Linked DNA regions of Homo sapiens: regions 2, 3 and 4 are each linked to region 1. Evidence: fine-mapped expression QTL. A gene starts in region 1. Each other region holds a variant in brackets. All regions are shown on one strand. Distances are from middle to middle. Region 1 holds the start of TRIM2 (tripartite motif containing 2). Region 2 overlaps TRIM2 (tripartite motif containing 2). Region 3 overlaps TRIM2 (tripartite motif containing 2). Region 4 overlaps TRIM2 (tripartite motif containing 2).

Evidence for each region. PIP is the estimated chance that this variant, and not a neighbour inherited with it, causes the effect. A credible set is the group of variants that fine-mapping cannot tell apart.
Region 2: its variant is the best candidate, but not a certain one, in a credible set for the expression of TRIM2 in blood mononuclear cells (TOPMed, PIP 0.89).
Region 3: its variant is the best candidate, but not a certain one, in a credible set for the expression of TRIM2 in esophagus mucosa (GTEx, PIP 0.72).
Region 4: its variant is the best candidate, but not a certain one, in a credible set for the expression of TRIM2 in prefrontal cortex (ROSMAP, PIP 0.76).

The regions. Positions count from the first base shown.
Region 1 is chr4:153,201,981-153,207,133 of GRCh38, reverse strand. It overlaps TRIM2 (tripartite motif containing 2), which reads right to left and starts at 2,691. Exons shown (of 12, transcript NM_015271.5): 1 at 2,574-2,691. The coding sequence starts at 2,603. RefSeq lists an enhancer at 235-1,140.
Region 2 is chr4:153,231,883-153,237,035 of GRCh38, reverse strand. All of the region lies in intron 1 of TRIM2 (tripartite motif containing 2), which reads right to left. Among named protein-coding and RNA genes, the nearest start is that of TRIM2, 30 kb to the right of the region's middle. The variant C/G (reference allele first, on the strand shown) is at 1,978.
Region 3 is chr4:153,284,925-153,290,077 of GRCh38, reverse strand. All of the region lies in intron 3 of TRIM2 (tripartite motif containing 2), which reads right to left. Among named protein-coding and RNA genes, the nearest start is that of MND1, 57 kb to the left of the region's middle. The variant C/G (reference allele first, on the strand shown) is at 2,996.
Region 4 is chr4:153,332,371-153,337,523 of GRCh38, reverse strand. TRIM2 (tripartite motif containing 2) reads right to left here. Exons shown (of 12, transcript NM_015271.5): 12 at 1-2,710. The coding sequence ends at 2,558. Among named protein-coding and RNA genes, the nearest start is that of MND1, 9.7 kb to the left of the region's middle. The variant A/TA (reference allele first, on the strand shown) is at 2,253.

The DNA of each region.
Region 1 (5,153 bases):
TATTGTGATTTATAATAAGAAATATATATTTGGTCTTGTCTCTGCTTCCTGGCACATAGTTCTTAAAATCCTTGCAATTGGCTGGGCATGGGGGCATGCACCTGTAATCCCAGCACTTTGGTAGGCTGAGGCGGGAGGATCTGGAGGATCGCTTGAGCCCAAGGGGTCAAGGCTGCAGTGAGCCATGATCATGCCACTGCACTCCAGCCTGGGTGACGGAGCAAGACCCTGTCTCAAATTTAAAAAAGAAAGAAAGAAAACCCCTTGGAATGTACAAAGTGATAAAGAGCCTTTTTGTATGCTAATGAGATGATTGACGACTGAGGGCTCCCAGATTGCCTCTGGAGGGGGCTGGTTGCCAGGGGAACCAAGCAAGTGATTAGAGAGTTGGAACTTTCAGCCCCTTTCTCCCTACTCCACCCATACACACCCCCTGACCCTGTTTCCAGGGAGCAAAGAGGGGCAGGAGGTTGACTCAATCACCGATGGCCAATGGTTTGATCAATCATGCCTTTGTAATGAGGCCTCCATAAAAACCCAAAGGAGCGGGTCTGGAGGGCTTCTGGATAGCTGAACACATGGAGACGCTGGGAGAGTGGCGCCCGGAGAGGACATGAAAGCTCCAAGACCCTCCCTAGCCATCTCTTCACCTGGCTGTATGTATTCATTCAACTGTATCCTTTGTAATACCCTTTATAATAAACTGGTAAATGGAATTAAGTGTCTCCCTGAGTTCCGTGAGCTATGCTAACAAAACAGTGACCCCAAGAAGTCAATCTCTGACTTACAGCACAAAGTTAGACAAAGTTACACAGCTTGTAATCTACCTGAGGAAGGATCGTGAGAACTTCTCATGGATAGCCAGCTAGTCAGAAGCACAAGTGACAACCTTCAGCCTGCAACTGGCCTCTGAGGTCGGGGCAGCCTGGTAGGACTGAGCCCTTAAACCTCAGGGTCTGCACTCACTGCAGTTAGTGTCAGAATTGAGTTAAACTGTGGGACACCTACTTAGGTGGGAAGGTGAGAATGCATTGACCTGACCAAATGGGATTTGTGAGGCCTGCGGTGGGCCTGGAGGGTGAATGATGCACACCTGTCCTTTCCCTTTGGAGCCTCCACCCCACCTGGGAGAGTCAAAAGTTCACTGGCAGAGTCAGAATTTCCATTCCTTGTCAGGACCTCCTCGTGGGGTGACTCATCCCTCTCCAGGGCTCTAGGACCGCACCAGGAGAACCTGGCCTCACTTAGAGACTGCCTGTTTTCATACAATGGGTTCAAGCATTCATGTTGCTTGGCGTCAAATTCATTTGAAAAACACCCTTTGTATTCTGACTTAATACCTCCAGGATCCGCAAACAGCATGGTGGCTTTAAACAAGGTGTACCTAGATAATAGATACAAGTTGAGGGAATTTGGAGAGGTGGGGAGACTTTCAAAGCATTAAATGTATTAAAGTCCCATGGTTCACCTCTAGCTTTATGTAAAAATTAAACCTCACCTTTTCATTTTATCAGGCTCCTGTCGATAACAAACACAAACCGCAAGTTCACTGACTCCACACCACGGGGCTCACCAGAAACTTATCTGATCAAAGCTGCCGTAGGTGATTCTTTTTTTCAGCAGGAGGAGGAGGACTTTCTAAAGCAACTCCCAGGACTCGAGATGTTGTAGCCCCCTCCCCACCTTACAGGTCGCAATGACAGCACAACCCTTTCCTTGCCCTTTGCGCACCCCGTGAGCTACGACAGGTGCCTCACTGAGCACCGAATGGGCCAGCCAAGAGATAAAGCAGGCACCAAAGACCGGTGCCTGAGTGGTTTTCCACCCTCACCCATTCACACCCCGGAAACCAGCAAGCACCCCGAGGTGTGGCTGGCTGAGCCCACATCAGGCTTCACCCCCGACTCACATGGCGTCCCCAGGCTCTGCTGACTTCTCACTTGGGTAGTCAAGGACAAACGCTCTATTCACCTGGGGCTATTTCTTCATTCCACAGTCGCACGGCAGAGGGACATAGTACCCTTTGAGCACTTTTATGGGGCAGTAAAACTTTACAGTCTCCTGTCTGCTCTAAACTGTTCCCACATTTCTGAATAGACCTATTTATAACATGCAAGACTACTACAGTTTGCCCTTTGAAAATACTAGCAGATATTAGGTCCTTTCAAATGGGGTCGACTGAGTTACATCGGCTAGCAGCTGGCTTACAGAAACCCCGGAGAGGCCCAGCTAAGCTCCTGACTGTGACTACCTATGTTAGGAAATAAAACAGCATTTGAGTCTCACAACATCACTGGAACTGGCCTTATGCTTTGCCACATTCATGTTGCTTTGGTGTCAAATCCAGCTGTGTCTCTCCCTCGATTTTTTGCTTCCTTACTCCCTTCCTGCCTGGATTAACAGAGCTCACTGTGAGCTTTGTCAGCAAATCCCAGTCTTTTCCTTCCCTCTTCTGCAGGGAAAAAATTAAAACCAGGAAAAAGTAGCAACCCAATCACAACTTGTTTCTCCCAGCCCCGGATTAACCAGCTGGCCCAGAAAAAGAATTATCCCACATTGAGAAGCGTCCTTACCTGCGTTCCATAACGGCCACTCCTGTGCATCGAAGACCAGAGCCAGCCTCCTCCAATCTGGGGACTTAGCTCCCCGCAGCCCGCAGACAACTGGGCCCATTATAGTCATCAAGCTGCCGAGTTAAAGGGTGGCCCTTACTAAAATATAAACAGCTAGTCAGCACAAGCCAAAGGGGCGGGGCTACAGTATCAGGGGACAATGAGAGCCAATGATCAGCCTCTTTGGGCTCTGTTTGCTTAAGATATTGTGTTTCATTCCGAAGTAGGGGAGACGGGAATGAGAAACACTGAAGAGTAAGGGCTGAGTTATCATCTTTACAGCCCCCAGTAGGAAAAGCGTCCAAGTTGAAAAGTTTAAATCACTGCCCACAGAAGACCAATTTCAGGAAAGTGTTTGTAGACTGCACACATAATAATATGTATTTTTAAAGCCACAGATATTTATGTTGCATTAGCTATCTGTTGTCTTCCGGGGTTAATAAATGTGGTATTCATGAGGTCAACGGGAGTTTTTCAACCAAAGAACAAAGGCCAAGAAAGTTAGTTTGATGACATGCTTATTTTATTGAATATACTATCTGATCAGGAGCACTCACCTCATCTACAGAGCAAACACTTGTTTGATTGGCACATCTTTATTTTATTTATTTATTTATTTATTTATTTATTGAGATGGAGTCTCGCTCTGTTGCCCAGGCCGGAGTGCAGTGGCACAATCTTGGCTCACTGCAACCGTAGCCTCCTGGGTTCAAGTGATTCTCCTGCCTCAGCCTCCTGAGTAGCTGGAATTACAGGAATGCACCACCACACCTGGTGAATTTTTGTATTTTTAGTAGAGACGGGGTTTCGCCATGTTGGCCAGGTGGGTCTTGAACTCCTGGCTTCAAGTGATCCGCCCGCCTTGGCCTCCCAAAGTGCTGGGATTACAGGAGTGTGCCACTGCGCCTGGTCTACTATTTTTTTTTTTTTTTTTGAGACAGAGTCTTGCTGTGTTGACCAGGCTGGAGTGCAGTAGTGTGATCTCAGCTCACTGCAAGATTGGTACATCTTTAGAACCCAGAGATATGGATTTATTGTATGCCCAAGTCAGCAAAATGGCTCACATTTGATGTGTTTATGTTCTTCTTCGTGTGTGTGTGTGTGTGTGTGTGTGTGTGTGTGTGTGTAGAGATGTGGGTCTCACTATATCACCCAAGGTGGAGTGCAGTGGCTATTCACAGGCACAATCATTGTGCACTGTAGCCTCAAACTCCTGGGCTCAGGTCATCCTCCTGCCTCAGCCTCCCTAGTAGCTGGGATTACAGGCTTGCACCTATAATCATGCCAGACCATGAGCATTTCATTTGATCAAACATATCAGAAGTTCAGTATATTTGGAAGAAGGCAGGAGAGCCGTGGCTTCTTTCTGTCTCCCAAACTTAACTAAATTCCACTTTTTTTTTTTTTTTTTTTTTTTTGAGATGGAGTCTCGCTCTGTCACCAGGCTTGAGTGCAGTGGCACAATCTTGGCTCACTGCAACCTCCACCTCCCAGGTTCAAGTGATTCTTGTGCCTCAGGCTCCTGAGTAGCTGGGACTACAGATGCGCACCACCACGACCAGCTAATTTTTGTATTTTTAGTAGAGACAGGGTTTCATCATGTTGGCCAGGCTGGTCTCAGTCTCTTGACCTCGTGATCTGCCCACCTCGGCCTCCCAAAGTGCTGGGATTACAGGTGTGAGCCACCGCGCCCGGCCTTAAATTCCCCTTTTAAAGCTATTACAGCAGCTTAACCTTCCAATGCCCTTTGATAATAACCAAGAACCAGAAAGTAAACTGTAGGGCTTTTTTTCCTTATATGATTTCTTTTTTTTTTTTTTTTTGAGACAGAGTCTCGCTCTGTCACCCAGGCTGGAGTGCAGTGGCGTGATCTCGGCTCACTGCAAGCTCCGCCTCTCGGGTTCAGGCCATTCTCCTGCCTCAGACTCCCGAGTAGCTGGGACTACAGGCGCATGCCGCCATGCCCGGCTAATTTTATTTATTTATTTATTTATTTTTTAGTAGAGTTGGGTTTCAGCCAGGATGGCTGGATCTCCTGACCTCGTGATCTGCCCGCCTTGGCCTCCCAAAGTGCTGGGATTACAGGCACGAGCCAACGCGGCTGGCCTCCTTATATCATTTCTAAATAATACACTGAAGTAAAAATAAAGTTAAGAGTTGTTTGGTTGATTGTGTGGCATTGCATAAATTATAGGCATACAAACTGTGAAAAGTACAGTCATTACATTTGAAATAGTTTCATCATTTATAAAGTGATATAGTAGTTATCAAAATGAACACAGTAGTTGTCAAAATGAATTATCAGAGAAAAATGTTGAAACGTATTTATTTTCCGCAAACTTTTTCTCAAGCCCTTCTGATTATAAAAATAATAATCCCCAAATGCCATCCTTTCTAATCTATATTAGTTTGAAAATGTTTATGATTCTGCCACTGGTGTTTAATTTGTATTAAAGTAAAATTCCTCCAGAACCTTTTCTAAATGATGTATGAGGCTCCTTCTGGCCCTTGTATCCTTCTAATTATTTCAAAAGAGCTGTT
Region 2 (5,153 bases), 30 kb before region 1:
TGATACTGTAAGTTTACAAAGATGTTTAAGACATAATCCTCTGGCTGTGCGAGGTGGCTCATGCATATTACATGAGCACTTTGGGAGGCCCAGGCAGGAGGATTGCTTAAGCCTAGGAGTTTGAGACCAGGCCTAGGCAACATAGTGAGACCCCCATCTCTACCAAAAATTTAAAAATTAGCCAGGTATGGTGGTACACACCTATAGTCCCAGCTACTGAGGAGGCTGAGTTGGGAGGATCTCTTGAACCCAGGAGGTCGAGGCTGCAGTGAGCTGTGATTGTACCACTGCACTCCAGCCAAGGTGACAAGAGTGAGACCCTGTCTCAAGAGAAAAGAAAAGAAAGGAAAAAGAAAAGAAAAGAAAAGAAAAGAAAAAGACACAATCCTCAGACTCAAACAACTTGCCATAAAAAAACAAGTATGTAAAGAAACTGCTGTATAAAGGACAATCTTCTCCACAAGAAAAGTCCATAGTGGGTTGCTGTGGGATGCAAAGCAGAATTGAGGACAACTACTACTGTTTGTTTAAAAAAAGTAGATCACTAAAGGTTCTAGAATTGTCATGTGGTAGCATTTGAGAGGGCTTTAGTGGGTTTGTGGGGCTAAACAGAAAGAGCCAGCATGAATAGGCATACAAGGAAATGAGGTATGGGGCACAGTGAGGGAGTAAGGAGCCTAGTTTTCCATGGTATGAGGTACAAGGTGAGGATAAGTAGAAGAAAAGGCTAGAACATGCAATAGAAGCCATGTTGGGGATGGCCTTAACTGTATCCATGCATTCCCATGCTGCTATGAAGAAATACCCGACACTGGGTAATTTATAAAGAAAAAAAAGGTTTAATTGACTCACAGTTCTGCAGGACTGGGAAGGCCTCAGTAAACTTACAATCATGGCAGAAGGCACCTCTTCACAGGGTGGCAGGAGGGAGAATGAGTGCAAGCAGGAGAAATGCGAGATGCTTATAAAACCATCAGATCTCAAGAGAACTCTCTCACAATCATGAGTACAGCATGGGGGAAACTGCCCCCATGATTTGATCCCCACCGGATCCCTCCCACGACACATGTCACATGGAGCCCTCAGGAGACTTAGAATCTAGGGGGAAAGAAGGTAATCATAGTTTAGGTGGTCAAGAATTCTGATGGAGGTGAGCACAGGATGTTGGCAGGGTCCCGGAGGAGGTGACACTTGGGTTGAGCCTTGAGGGAGGAGTAGGGCTTGGTCAAAGGAAGAAGTGTGGAAAAGGTAATCTGATCAGAAGGAATAGCTGGTGCAAAACTGCAAAGCTCTTCAACAACCTGACACATTCAGGTCTGTAAGAAGCTCTAGAAAGAGGTGAATTGAGCCTTCTTTAAAAATGAAAAAGAATCACAGCCATTTATTAACTACTCTGTATGTGCTGGGTACTATTCTATACACACAAGAATTCATTTAATTCTCTTAACTTGGCGGGGCACCATGGCTCACACCTGTAATCCCAGCACTTTGGGAGGCTGAGGCAGGTGGATCACTTAAGTTGAGGAGTTCGAGACCAGCCTGGGCAACATGGTGAAACCTCATCTCTATGAAAAATACAAAAAATTAGGCAGGCATGGTTGTGCCTGCCTGTAGTCCCAGCTACTTGGGAGGCTGAGGCAGGAGAATTCCTTGAGCTCGGGAGGTCAAGGCTGTAGTGAGCCGTGATCATGCCACTGCACTCCAACCTGGGCAACAGAGCAAGACCTTGTCTCAAAAAAAAAAAAAATTATCTTAACTCTATGAAGCAGGCACAGCTTTTCCCATTTTACAGAGGAACAAACTGACTTTGAGTGCTTCAGAAATTTGCTTCTCAGAGTCACACAGCTGTCACCAATGATTAGTGACTTCAAGCCTACATCTTTCTGACTGGAAAACCAATTTGTATTAAGCCCTGAAGGATGGGAAAGAGTGAGTCATACAACAAAAAAGTGGAACAAGCATTCAAGGCAGAGGAAA[C/G]CTGAAGACATATGTGTGTTAGTGGAGGAAGACCAACTAGAAGCAGTTTGGAAGCACCACATATGAAGTACACAGCTGGGGGCAGCAGAGGGGTCTGTGTGCTCGAGGGTGGGACAGGGCACGGGGAAGGTTAAGAATTGGAGAGAGAAAGTGGCAATTAATTGAGTTCCACTTTGGACATGCTGAGTTGGAGATGCATGTAGAACAACTGCCTGGAGATGTCAAATAGCTGCTGAGTTATAGTTCTAGGCTCAGAAGAAAGGTCTGGGCATTGAATAAAAATTTGACCTATAGATCTAGGCAGGAAAACAAATCATCATCACAAGCATTGACTGTTAACCAGGCACAGCACCTAATGCTACCTATGCATTTTCTGTTTAACACTCTCAACAGCCATACAGAGTAGGTAACTTATGAGCCTCATTTTACAGACAATGACTCTAAGCCACAAGGACATTCAGTAGCCTGCCTAGGGTCATAAAGGATCTGCATACTTCTACATTCAGTTTCCAAACTTTTGTGACTGAGATCCGCAGCAGAAATGTATTTTATGTTGCAGTCCAGTAATAGATACATATATTTCACTGAAACAAAGGTTGCATGAGATCACATTTAGCCCGATGCCCTCTGCTATTTCCTATTCTATTTCATTTTTCAGTAAACTGGCTGCAACTCACTAACTTGATTCACAACCCGCTCATGAAGCCCACAGTTTGAGAATCGCTATCCAACACCTTCTTTCCTCCCACCCCTGAATCACAGTGTGACTGCAAGGATAAAGGGAGATGCAAGCAACATCATAGATGTCAAGGAGAAAACTGCACTTCTGAGTGGTTGTGAGTCTTGAGCATAAAATGATGAGAATTCAATCTCTTCTGCCAAATAATGCCCCAAGGACATGTCTGTGGAAGCTAGCTCTTCCGCAGTGACTCATTTACACCTGTCAGGAGTATTTATGGGGATTGAAGCCATTATTGCTGCCAAGCTTTCTCACTGTATGGTGCAGGAAAAGATGCAGATGCACTTAACTTTGAAGAATTTTAAAGTTGTTAGTTCTAAAATTGCTATGGTATTACATTAGAGCAGGATTTGGGCACATATCCCAAAGCAAAGCAGCCCGGTGCCTGTACTCCCCTTGCATGTAATTCCTGCAAACAGTGATTGCAACAGGAAATCATACCTCCGTGGCAGAAATTATGCAATGCAACATTTAACATCTCTCTCAGCAGGAAATGGTTTTGCTGGCAGGAGTTTTGGAATTAACCATAAAAAGATATCATAGACCCTGAATGTATGCATCCATCCTTCCTTCTACTTCATAGGAAGAGAGGAAATGTTCCTTCCCACCAAAATTGAAGCATTCTCAGTGGCCCACCTGCCTCCCTACCACCTCCACGCCTCACTCCTTCAACCCTTTCCTCTTTAACACCATCATCTCCTCCTTTCCCATGGGTTTCTTCCTTTCTGACTTCAAATACACATTGGTTTCCTCTAAAAAAACAAAAAAGCACCTCAGCAACAAAGAATTTTGGGGGTGATATAATTGGTCCTATCTCAACAGTAGTCATGGTTACAGAACTATATTCATTTGTCAAAATTCACAGAATTGAACATCAGAAAAGGTGAATTTGACTGTAAGTAAAGTAATCAATATCTCAAAAAGAAAACCCCACAACTTTCCAATAAAAACCCCCCACACCATTTTCTAAATCCTGCCACCCTGTAATTATCATCTGACTTCCTTCCTTCCTTTCTTTGGCACTTTCTTTTCCCCATGTCCTCATTTTAGCTAAACCAAAGTCTTCTCCCAGTCGTCCCTCTTCTCCTCCCACCTTCTACTGGAAACTCTTTTTCTTTGGCTTTGGAAGTAGAGAACTTTACCATTTCTCCTCTACTTTAAATGCTTCTTATCCTTATTCTTAGCAATCTTCTAACTCCGGGAATTTGCCAAAACATCAAGCCACTGCTCTTCTCCTACATTCACTCACTCAGAGGCCGCACCCACTCTTGTGATTAGATGACTGCTGGAATGCATTTGACTTCCAAATCTATGTCTAGAGAGGGGGCAGCTGGCTTAGGTTTCCAGTGGCCCAGGGGACAGCTCCACCCGGCTCTGTCACCACCTCCAATTCAGCACCTGCAGCTCTGAGTCTCCCCCTGCTGCCTTTGCTAGCCACTCTCACTGGAGTGGCTGACCTTATCACTGGAGCTTCTCTCCCAGGGCCAGAAACCCTGAAGACACCACTCAGCCCCTAAGTCAGGTACAAAGGAGAAAGGAGACATGGGAATGTTCTGTAAACTGTTATGTTCTAGACTTAACGACACATTACCATTGCTACTACTTAAATCTTTTCAACTCTTCCTTTGAAATGTGTCTTGATTTTATCTACTTTTCTCCACCCCCGCCCCAACCTATGGCCTCTAGTTCCCTCCCTTCCTTCCAGCATATTCTGCATGCTGGGGTCAGTCCACTCTCACTAAAACACCTCTTTGCCTCTCACTGTGCTGGTCACGACTCAATTTTTTTTATTTTTGAAAATTTATTATTTATTTATTGTTTTGAGATGCAGCCTCACTCTGTCACCAGGCTGGAGCGCAGTGGCATGATCTTGGCTCACTGCAACCTCTGCCTCCCAGGTTCAAACGATTCTTCTGCCTCAGCCTGCCAAGTAGCTGGGACTACAGGCGTGCGCCACCACGACCAGCTAATTTTTGTATTTTTAGTAGAGACGGGGTTTCACCATGTTGGCCAGGCTGGTCTCGATCCATCTGCCTGCCTCGGCCTCCCAAAGTGCTGGGATTACAGGCGTCAGCCACCTCGCCTGGCTACTCATGACTCTTTAAAGGTGGCTGTTAGAGTTGAATTGTGTCCCCCTCCCTCCAAAAAGATATATTGATGTCTCCCAGTACCTCAGATTGTGACTGTATTTGGAAATACTACAAGTTGAGTATCTTTTATCCTAATGCTTGGGGCCGGAAGTATTTTTGGATTTTGGTTTTTTTTCATATTTTGGAATATGTGCAGATACTGACTGGTTGAGCATCCGCAATCCAAAAGACTGAAATCCGAAATGCTCCAATGAGCATTTCCTTTGAGCATCATGTCAGCACCCAAAATGTTTTGGACTTGGAGCATTTCAGATTTTTGGATTTGGGATGCTCAACCTGTACAGTGT
Region 3 (5,153 bases), 83 kb before region 1:
ACTTTTACCAGACATTTTATTTCTAGATTATATATAACTAGAATAGCATTTACTAATATTTCATCTTCATGGTCAGTGCTCAGGAGGTCTCTTTAAAGCAGGTTGTCACTGCCAGTCACATGTACCAGAGGACAGCCCAAAAACAGAATGTGAAAAGACTTCTTCCCTCAGGTTATTTCGGGTGTTGGGGCAAATATAAGTGTATGGACTGAGGGAATATGCCACATTAACAGTGCTTAGTCAATCCAATGGCACTCTTCCCAAACCAATCTAGCCTGGGACTGAGTTCCCACATCTTCACTGGAAGAAGGGAGCATGGCCTCATGTCTAGAATGGGTCTAGATCAATGGCAAATTTTACTTGGGAATCAGTGTGCACATTGCATTTAGAAGTTGCAAATACTATATCATATTTGTTGCATTTTGTGGTCTGAGTTGAAGTTCCCCAGCAGTATAAGAAACGAGATGACAAAGAATACTCATTGGAAGACAGAAAAGGATGCAAAATAATATAGAGTCGCGAAAAATGTAAAAAATCCTCAAGACCAGAGTTCATCATGTATGAAAAAAGATCAGCATCCATTACTATTATTATCCTTCTTTTTAATTCATATTTTTAAATGATTACAGGGAAGTGATGTTACTGAAAACAGCAGCATAAGAAAATCTATGTCAGGTCACTGGTTGGTAGCTAATCTACTGGAACAGACTTCATTAGCCACATATGACAAAACATACAAACTTTACAAAATTAGTTGCATTGGATAATAAAAGTGGGGAACGAAAAAAATATAAAATAATTAGTTTAGAAAAGTCACCAAACAACAACAGCAAAAAACTATAATAATCATCAACAAAAAACCCTAGGGAGAGGGGAGACTCTGATTTCCAGAGTTGCCACAATATAGTACTTTAAATGTTCAGTTTCCAATGGAAAAAAGTGAAGCACACAAAAAAGGACAAAGTTCACAAAGAGGAATAAAAGAAATTTATAGGCACTCTCCCTAAAGAAGCCCAGATTGGACTTACTTGACTTTAACTCTTTCATATATGCTCACAGAGCTAATGGAAACCATATATAAAAAACTATGAGAACAATGTCTCACTAAATGGAGAATATTAATAGAGAGATAAGAATTATTTTTTAAAAGCCAAATAGAAATATTGTAGGGTTAAAAAATATAACTGCAATGAAAAATTCACTAGAAAAGTTCCACAGAAAATTCAAGCAGGAAGAAGAAGGTTAACTTGAAGATGGGCCTATTGAGATTATACAGTCTGTGAGGCAGGAAAAAAAAAAAAGGAAGAAAAAGTAACAAAACCTAAGAGGCCCGTGGGACACCATCAAGTGTACCAAATATACCTAATGAGAGTCCCAGAGGAGAGGAAGAGAGAAAGGGAAAGAACCGATATTTGCAAAAGTAATGGCTGGAAACTTCCCAAATTTGATAAAAGACACAAATCTACACATCCAAAAAACTTAATAAACTCCAAACAGGAAACTCAAAGACATCCAAACCAGGAAACAGTATAACCAAACCATAAAAAGACAAAAACAAAGAGAGAATCTTGAAAGCAGCAAGACAGAGGTGACTCATCTTGTATAAGAAATATTCCATAAGCAGATTTTTTTTCTTTTTTCTAAGATGAGTCTCACTCTGTCACCCAGGCTGGAGTGCAGTGGCTCAATCTTGGCTCACTGCAACCTCTGGCTCCCAAGTTCAAGCGATTCTCCTGTCTCAGCCTCCTGAGTAGCTGGGATTACAGGTGCGCGCCACCATCCCTGGCTAATTTTTGTATTTTTAGTAGAGACAAGGTTTCACCATGTTGGCCAGGCTGGTCTCAAACTCCTGACCTCAGGTGATCCGCCTGCCTCAGCCTCCCAAATTATTGGGATTACAGGTGCGAGCCACCATGCCCGGCTGCAGATTTTTTAATAGCAGATATCTCATCAGAAACTATAGAGGCCAGAAATCAATGGGGTAATATATTCAAACTGCTGAAAAAAAAATAAACCTGACAACTAATAATTTTTTATCTGGCAAAACTATCCTTCAAACATGAAGGAAAAATTAACACATTACCAGAAATACAAAAACTGAGTGTCTGTTGCTAGTATACCTTCCCTACAAGTCATGCCAAAGGGATTCCTGCAAGCTGACCTGATTTGATACACTACAAAGTAACCTGGGTCCACATGAAAAAAACAAGGAAAGCAGGTAAAGGTAACTACACAGATAAATATAAAGGTCAGTATTAATGTATTTTAGTTTTCTAACTCCTACATGACATAAAATAAAACTGCATAAAACAGCATAATCTATAATTACAAACCTATGTAGCTGAGCATACAACATATAAATACAAGCTAAAAGAAGCAAGGATTTTACATACTATTGAAATTATGTTGGTATTAATTTGAATTAAATCATTATAAGCTAAAATGTTAATTATAACCCTCAGGGCAAACAATAAAGAAAAATAAAAATATGTATAGTAAAAGAAATGAGAAGGGAATCAAAATGGTTCACTAGAAAATATCTATTAAACATAAAAGAAGGCAGTAATGGAGGAATAGAGGAACAAAAAGATATGCCATACAGAAAAAGAATAGTAAATGGCAAAAGGAAAGAAAGCCTTTCTTTTCAGTAATTAAGTTAATTAATTTAAATGGATTAAACTCTCCAATCAAAGGGCTGATACTGGCAGATTGGATTGAAAACATAATCCAACTATATGCTCTCTATAAGAGACTAATTTTAGATTCAGAGACTCAAATAGGTTGAAAGTGACAGGATGGCCCAGATATGGTGGCTCATGCCTGTAATCCCAGTACTTTGGGAGACAGAGGCAGGAGGATTGCTTGAGTCCAGGAGGTCAAGACCAGCTTGAAAAACATAGTGAGAGACCCTGTCTATTAAAAAAATACAAAAATTAGCTGAGCATAGTGGCGTGTGCCTGTAGTCCTGGCCTTCAGGAGGCTGAGGCAGGAATAT[C/G]AATTGAACCCAAGATTATGAGGCTGCAGTGAGCTATGATCATGCCACTGTACTCCAGCCTGGGAAACAGAGCAAGACCATCTCTTAAAAAAAGAGAGAGAGAAAAAGGAAAAGAAAAAAAAGAAAGTGAAAGAATGAAAAAAATATTTCATGCAAACTGTAACCAAAAGGGAGCTAGAGTGGCTATTCTAATATCAGAAAAAATAGACTTAAGACAAAAGTTGGATAGTATATAATTGACAGAAAGGATATTATAAAATTGATAAAACTTTAGTTAGACTGACCAGAGAGAGAGAGAGAGTGAGATGGTGGGGGGGTGCGGGGTGGTGGGTGTGTGTGTGTGGCAGGGGTGGTGTGGGAGAAGAGAGAAAGAAGACTCAAATTACAAAAATCAGGAAGGAAAGTGGTGGGGAAATTACTACTGACATCATAGAAATAAAAAGGATTATAACAGAATACTGTGGATAGTTTTATGCTAACACATTGAATAACTTAGATGAAATGGACAAATTCCTAAAAACACACAAACTATCAAAACTGACATGAAGAAATACAAAGTCTGAATAGACCTGTAATATGTAAGGAGATTGAATCAATAATCAGGAAACTTCCAACACAGAAAAGCCCAGGACCAGATGGCTTCACTGGTGAATTCAACCAAATATTTTAAGAAGAACTAACACCAATCTTCCTTAAACTCTTAAAAAAAAATAGAAGAGATTGAGGGGTAATACTTCCTAACTCATTCTATTAGGCCAGTATTTCCCTGATACCAAAGCCAAAGATACCACAAGAAAATTACAGACCAATAACCCTTATAAATATGGATGAAAAAATTCTTAATAAAATGCTAGCAAACTGAATCCAGCTGTATATTAAAGAGATTATATATCATGAGCAGGTGGGATTTATCCCAGGAATGCAAGGGTGGCTTACCTAGACAAATTACTGTATGTAATACATCACATTAATAGAATGAAAGAAAAAACTCATTATCATCTGAATTAATGTGGGAAAAGCATTTAACAAAATCCAATATCTTTTCATGCCAAACTAGAAACAGAAGGGAACTTCCTCCTCCTAATAAAGAGCATCTACAAAAAACCCACAGCTAACATCATACTTAATCAAGAACAAGAGGATATTCACTCTTATCACTTCTAGTCAACGGTGTACTGAAGGTGCTGACCAGGGCATTTAGGCAAGAAAAAGAAATAAAATGCATCCAAATTGGAAAGGAAGAATTAAGAATTTCTCTATACAGAGATGACATGATCTTATATACAGAAAATCCTAAAGAATACACACACACACACACACACGCACACACATTCACACAATTAGAGCTAATAAATGAATTCAGCAAAGTTGCAGGATACAAGATTAACAAACAAAAATCAGTTGTATCTCTAAACACTAACAATGAATAATCCAAAAGTGAAATTAAGAAAACAATTCCCAGCTAGGCATGGTGGCTCATGCCTGTAATCCCAGGACTTTGGGAGGCTGAGGCAGGAGGATTGCTTGCCCCAAGACCAGGCTGGCCAAAATAGTGAGACCTATCTCTATTTTTTTAAAAAAATCCATTTACAATATTATCAAAAAGAATATAACATAGTTGGGAATAAATTGAACCAAGGAAGTGCAAGACTTGAATACTGAAAACTACTAAATAGCCAAAACAATCTTGAAAAAGAACAAAATTGGAGGACTCATAGTTACCAATTTCAAAACTGACTATAATGCTACAGTAATCAAAACAATGTAGTACTGGCATGAGAATAGGCATATAGATCAATGGAATAAGATGGAAAGTACAGAAAGAAGCCCATACATCCATGGTCAATTGATTCTTGACAAGGGTGTCAACACAGCTCAATGGGAAAAATTGCCTTTTCAACATATTATGCTGAGGTAACTAGAAATTCACATGTACAAGAATGAAATTTAACCCTTCCTTCAAACCACATACAAAAATTAACTCAAGATACATAAAAGACCTAAATGTAAGCTAAAACTATAAAAATCTTAGAAGGAAACAGGGGTGAATTTTCATGACCTTGAATCAGCAATGGATTCTAAGCTATGACACCAAAAGCACAAGCAACAAAAGAAAAAAATAGAGAAATTAGGCTTCATTAAATTAAAAGTATTTTTG
Region 4 (5,153 bases), 130 kb before region 1:
ATATTTTTTGGAAAAAATATAGTGTTTCCTGGAGTGCTCATAGCATGTGTTTTAGCAACACATAGTGGAGCAGGTCTGAATCAAACTATTCTTTCATTCCAGTTTGTGCCAATATTGACATGTAAAAAAAATTAGCTTTGTATTCAGTCTACTATTGAGATATCTAGCCTGATAGGATATGATATGATGGCTGGTTAGATTGTAAGTTAATTTCTAAGTTCACAAATATAATTGAAATGTTGTGCAAAAAAACTCTTTAAATCAACTAGTTTTAAGATCAACAGCCTGGGACAGAAAGAATCTAAATAAAAAGCCATTTTTACTTGTGAAAATAAACTAAAATTAATGTAACCAATTTGAAAAGTTTCTTTTAAACAATCTAGACAAGAGTCTAGCCTGTCTTTTGTGCAGAACGTTAGTACGTGGCAAAATGAAATTCCCACCCCAGAATGTCAGCTCTGAGGGGGCAGCGATTTTTTACCTGTTTTGTCCATCACTGTATTTCCAGTGCCTAAAAGAGTACTTGGTACCTAGTAGGTACTCAGTAAATATGAATGTTTAAATTCAAAGATGTATCTCACTGATGTTAGGAAACAGTGTCTTCATTTAACATTCTAAAAAGTTATTGAATTTTATAGCTTTATCACGGACAGGCTCAAGTATTTTTTAAAACTCTACCTAACTAAAAAAATATTAAACCTAAATGTAAATCTTCCTGGAAAAACCTTTTTTCAGAGGTTGATTTGGGCATAATAAATTTAACAGACAATTTGAAGTAGCTAGATTTCCCTTCTAAATTTTAAGAAGTCCTATATAGAGAATGACTGAATTATAAATTAATAAGCAATAAACATCACATTCATATAATTATACATAGGGGAAATGTTTTCTTATAGTACAGTTCTAAGGTGCTTTCAGTGAAGAAGACCCCAAAGTCACTATCAAAAATGTCAAACATGACATCCTATTTGGTAGAACTGAGTAGAAAATTAAACAGTGGAAATAGACCACAGCTTATTTTACAGTACCAATGACAGATGAACGATTGACTAAATTGTTCTTAACATTTCTCAAAATGCATTTATATTTAAATTAAATGTAACTCAAGTTCAACTTTTATTTTGACCTGTTGGGTTTTTTATGTGTGTGTGTGGTTTTTTTTTTGTTTTTTTTTTTGAAAGCACAGAAGGCCATTTTCTGACTAAAAGCCACCACCGTCATTCTTGGAAAATGGCAAAAATTAAATCTGCTTTAGGGCTTGCTCCACTAGGACGGCTTTAAACTGCTTAGTAAAGGAATGTGCTGAAGAGTGGCTGGACGAAGCTTCTGTCTTTCAGAGTGCTGCCTATTTCAATACACCAAAGATTCAGCTATATATATGTGTGTGTGTATATATATATATATATAATACATTCTATCTTACCCTAATCATGTATACATAGTCCCTTGACACCTCTACTATTCATTAAACAATGATAAATAACCATAACATGCCCTTACCTGTAATGCTTTCAAGATAACACAACTTTGGTAACACTTGCTTTCTAAGGGGGAATCATTAATCAATCACATGCCTTTGGTTGACACCATCAGTCCTCCAAAGGGCTACTTATGGCTCTCTGTCCTAGGATACTGGTGTCCTACTACATGTGCTGACATTTGCAGGAGGTAAAGCTTTCGCTTTCAGGAAGTCGAAGAGAAGAGACACGTGTGAAAACATGGTACATAAAACATGACTAACTTTCTTGATTACATTCCAGTGCAATGATCTGGAGTTAACGGGGCAGTTTGTTTCCCAAAAGGTAGCATTACTTTTGTAATATGCTTTTCAAGGCATTAGAAATTTCAGGTTTCCCTGAAGAAGTACTTTGTTTGCTGATACAAGGTGAGCCAAAGGGGTGGTGAAAAGAACACACAAAAAAGGATCTTTGTCTAACCCAGAAAGGTTGAGAAATTTGCACTGATACTTAAGTTCTGAACTCCAGAGGGCTGCTAATCAGAGCTGGGATCATTTTGCAAGACAGCCTTACTTTTTCCAAAGTAATTTATATTTAGTTGTTGATAACCAAAAAAATGTCACAAGAGTAATACCTACTGTAAAAGTGAGGTTAGAAGATTCCCTGGGTCTTGTGACCTAGGTTAAATGAAGTATATAACTACAATAGATTTTGTTTTTGTTTTGCTTTTGGAAGTTCTGTGCAAAAGCTACCATTCACAGGATTAACGAATACCTTTACATATGCTAGTTTTTT[A/TA]AGTGTCTGTTTGATTTGCAAAATTAGTTTAGCTACATAAATCCTGTCCCTTAAGCCATAGTTCACAGATGTAAAACTGCAGTTTTTATAGATTCAGTAGAAGAGTTTTTTTTAACCCTAAAGGTGAAATACAGAAATTGGATAAGTCATTTTTAAGGAAATTGTTACATTCAGAAATAACCTTGGAAAGTTCACCAATGATTCCTTCTGGCATAAAAACTCTAGTCATAATCTGGTCCCGCATTGAGAAATCCATTCCAGTTTATAGTGCAAGACCATGGAAGCGGGTATCCACCTGCCCACCATTACTGTAAGTATCGATAGACTTTGAAACAGTGATTTCCAGAGTCTGCAACCACAACATGACCATCTGAAGTTAGGGCCAGGCCTTGGGGGCCATAGAGTGGGTCAGCAGATGTGTTAATGTAGGACAAAAATGATCCACTCCCATCAAAAACCTGTAAACAAATAGGAAGTCAGAATGTTATAGGAGAAGTTATAGTAATATGCTGAACATGGGTTAGAAAACTCTTGATGCTAATGTTTTTCTGTTTCTTTCTTTCTTTTTGACAGGGTCTCACTCTGACACCCAGGCTGGTGTGCCGTGGTGTGAAGACAGCTTACTGTAACCTTTAATTCGTAGGCTCAAGCGATTCTCCTGATTCAGCCTCCCAAAGTGCTAAGATAATAGCCATGAGCCACCATGCCCAGTATATATGCTTTTATATTTAAAACATTAGCATAAGCCAGGTGCAGTGGTTTATATCTGTAATGCCAGTACTTTGGTAGGTGAAGGTGGGAGGATCCCTTGAGGCCAGGAGTTTAAGAACAGCCTGAGCAAAATAGCGAGACCCCGTCTCTTAAAAAAAAAAAGCAGAAAAAAAAAAAAGCAAAACAAAAAAGCACTTAAGTAATCATCTATCCATCTATGGATATGTCTTTGTTTATGTCACTATCATATCTATAATCCTACTCTCCACTTACCTTGCTTTCTCTCCTCTCCCCATCTATTTCCAGGTGGTGGAGAAGAATATGCCATTGGCTGCTAGCTTTCACTTGTATTCCTATAGTGGTCACAACAAATATTGGGTGGGAAGGGCCCTAGATGGTGCTTAAAAATGAATGAAGCTTATTGTTCATGTTAAATCTTCACTTATTCCACTTCCAGCCTCACATCCTTTTCCTCCCCCACACTTATAAGGGGAAAAATCAGCAACTAGATGATGGAAGAATGTTCCTGAGTCATAATAGCAATGAGACAGTAGAAATTATTTTTTCCTTTTTAGAAAAGAGTGGGTTGTAAGAAGTCAATGGTTCAACAGGTAAAGCCATCCCCTGGTATCCCAGGAGACTGATACCAAAATCTTCAGATTCTCAAGTCCTTTATATAAAATAGCCTAGTATTTGCACCTAACCTGTGCACATCCCCCCATATATTTTAAATCATCTCTAGATTACTTCTAATACCTAGAGCATGCTATATAATGTAAATAATATTATGTATTTTTACAATTCGTATTATTTTTAATCATTGTATTTAACAAATTATTTTTCCTGAAATTTTTGATCTGTATTTGGTTGAATTCACAAATGTGAGATTTGGGGGTACGGGGGGCTGATTATATGTTTGGATGTGAAATCACTTTCTTTTGGTCTATCGGTTTCTGCTTTGTTACTTCTGTTAAATTTTTATTTTGAAATAATTATAGATTCATAGGAAGTGGCAAAGATAGTAGAGAAAGGTCCTGTGTACTCTTCACTCAGTTTCCTCCAATGGTCACATCTTCTATAATTATGGTACCACACAAAACCCAATACATTGACTTTGGGTTGTGTGTGTACAGTTTTATGTCATTTTATCATGTGTGTAGATTTACCACTGCAACCAACGTACAGAATTATCCCATCAACATAAAGATCTCCCTCTTGCTACTTACTCCCCTTTCCTCACATCTCTAATCCTTGCCAACCACTAATCTGTTTTCCTTCTCTATAATTTTGTTATTTTTTTGAGAATGGTACACAAATAGAATCATATAGTATGTAACCTTCTGAAAATGGCTTTTTTTCACTCAGCATCATGCCCTTGAGATGCATCAGAGTTGTTGAGTGTATCATTAGTCTGTTCCGTTTTAATGCCAAGTCATATTCCATAGTATAGACATACCAGTTTGTTTAATCATGAACCTATTGAAAGACATCTGGGTTATTTTCAGTTTTGGGCTATTACAAATAAATCTTCTATGAACAACAATGTACAGGTTTTTGTGTGGACGTAAGTTTTCACTTCTCTGGGACAGACAGCCAGGAGTATAATTTATGGGTTGTATGGTAAGTATATGTTTAGTTTTTAAAGAAATACCAAACTATTTTCAAGGCTGACTGTGTAGTTTTGCATTTTTACCAGCAATGCATGAGAGATCTGGTTTCTCTACATGCTCTCCAGCATTTGGCATTATTAATATTTTTAATTTTAGCTATCCTTATAAGTGTGCAGTAATATCTCACCATGGTCTTAATTTGTACTTCCTTAATGTCTAGTGATATTGCACATCTTTTTATGTATACATCCTCTTCAGTAAAATTTCTCTTTATGCCTTTTGCTCGTTTTTCTTTTTTTTTTTTTGAGACGAAATTTCACTCTTGTCACCCAGGCTGGAGTGCAATGGTGTGATCATGGCTCACTGCAACCTCCGCTTTCTGGGTTCAAGTGATTCTCCTGCCTCAGCCTCCCAAGTAGCTGGGATTACAGGCACACACCACCACACCCAGCTAATTTTTGTATTTTTAGTAGAGACGCAGTTTTGCCATGTTGGCCAGGCTGGTCTCAAACTCCTGACCTCAGGTCATCCACCCGCCTTGGCCTCCCAAAGTGCTGGGATTACAGATGTGAGCCACAGC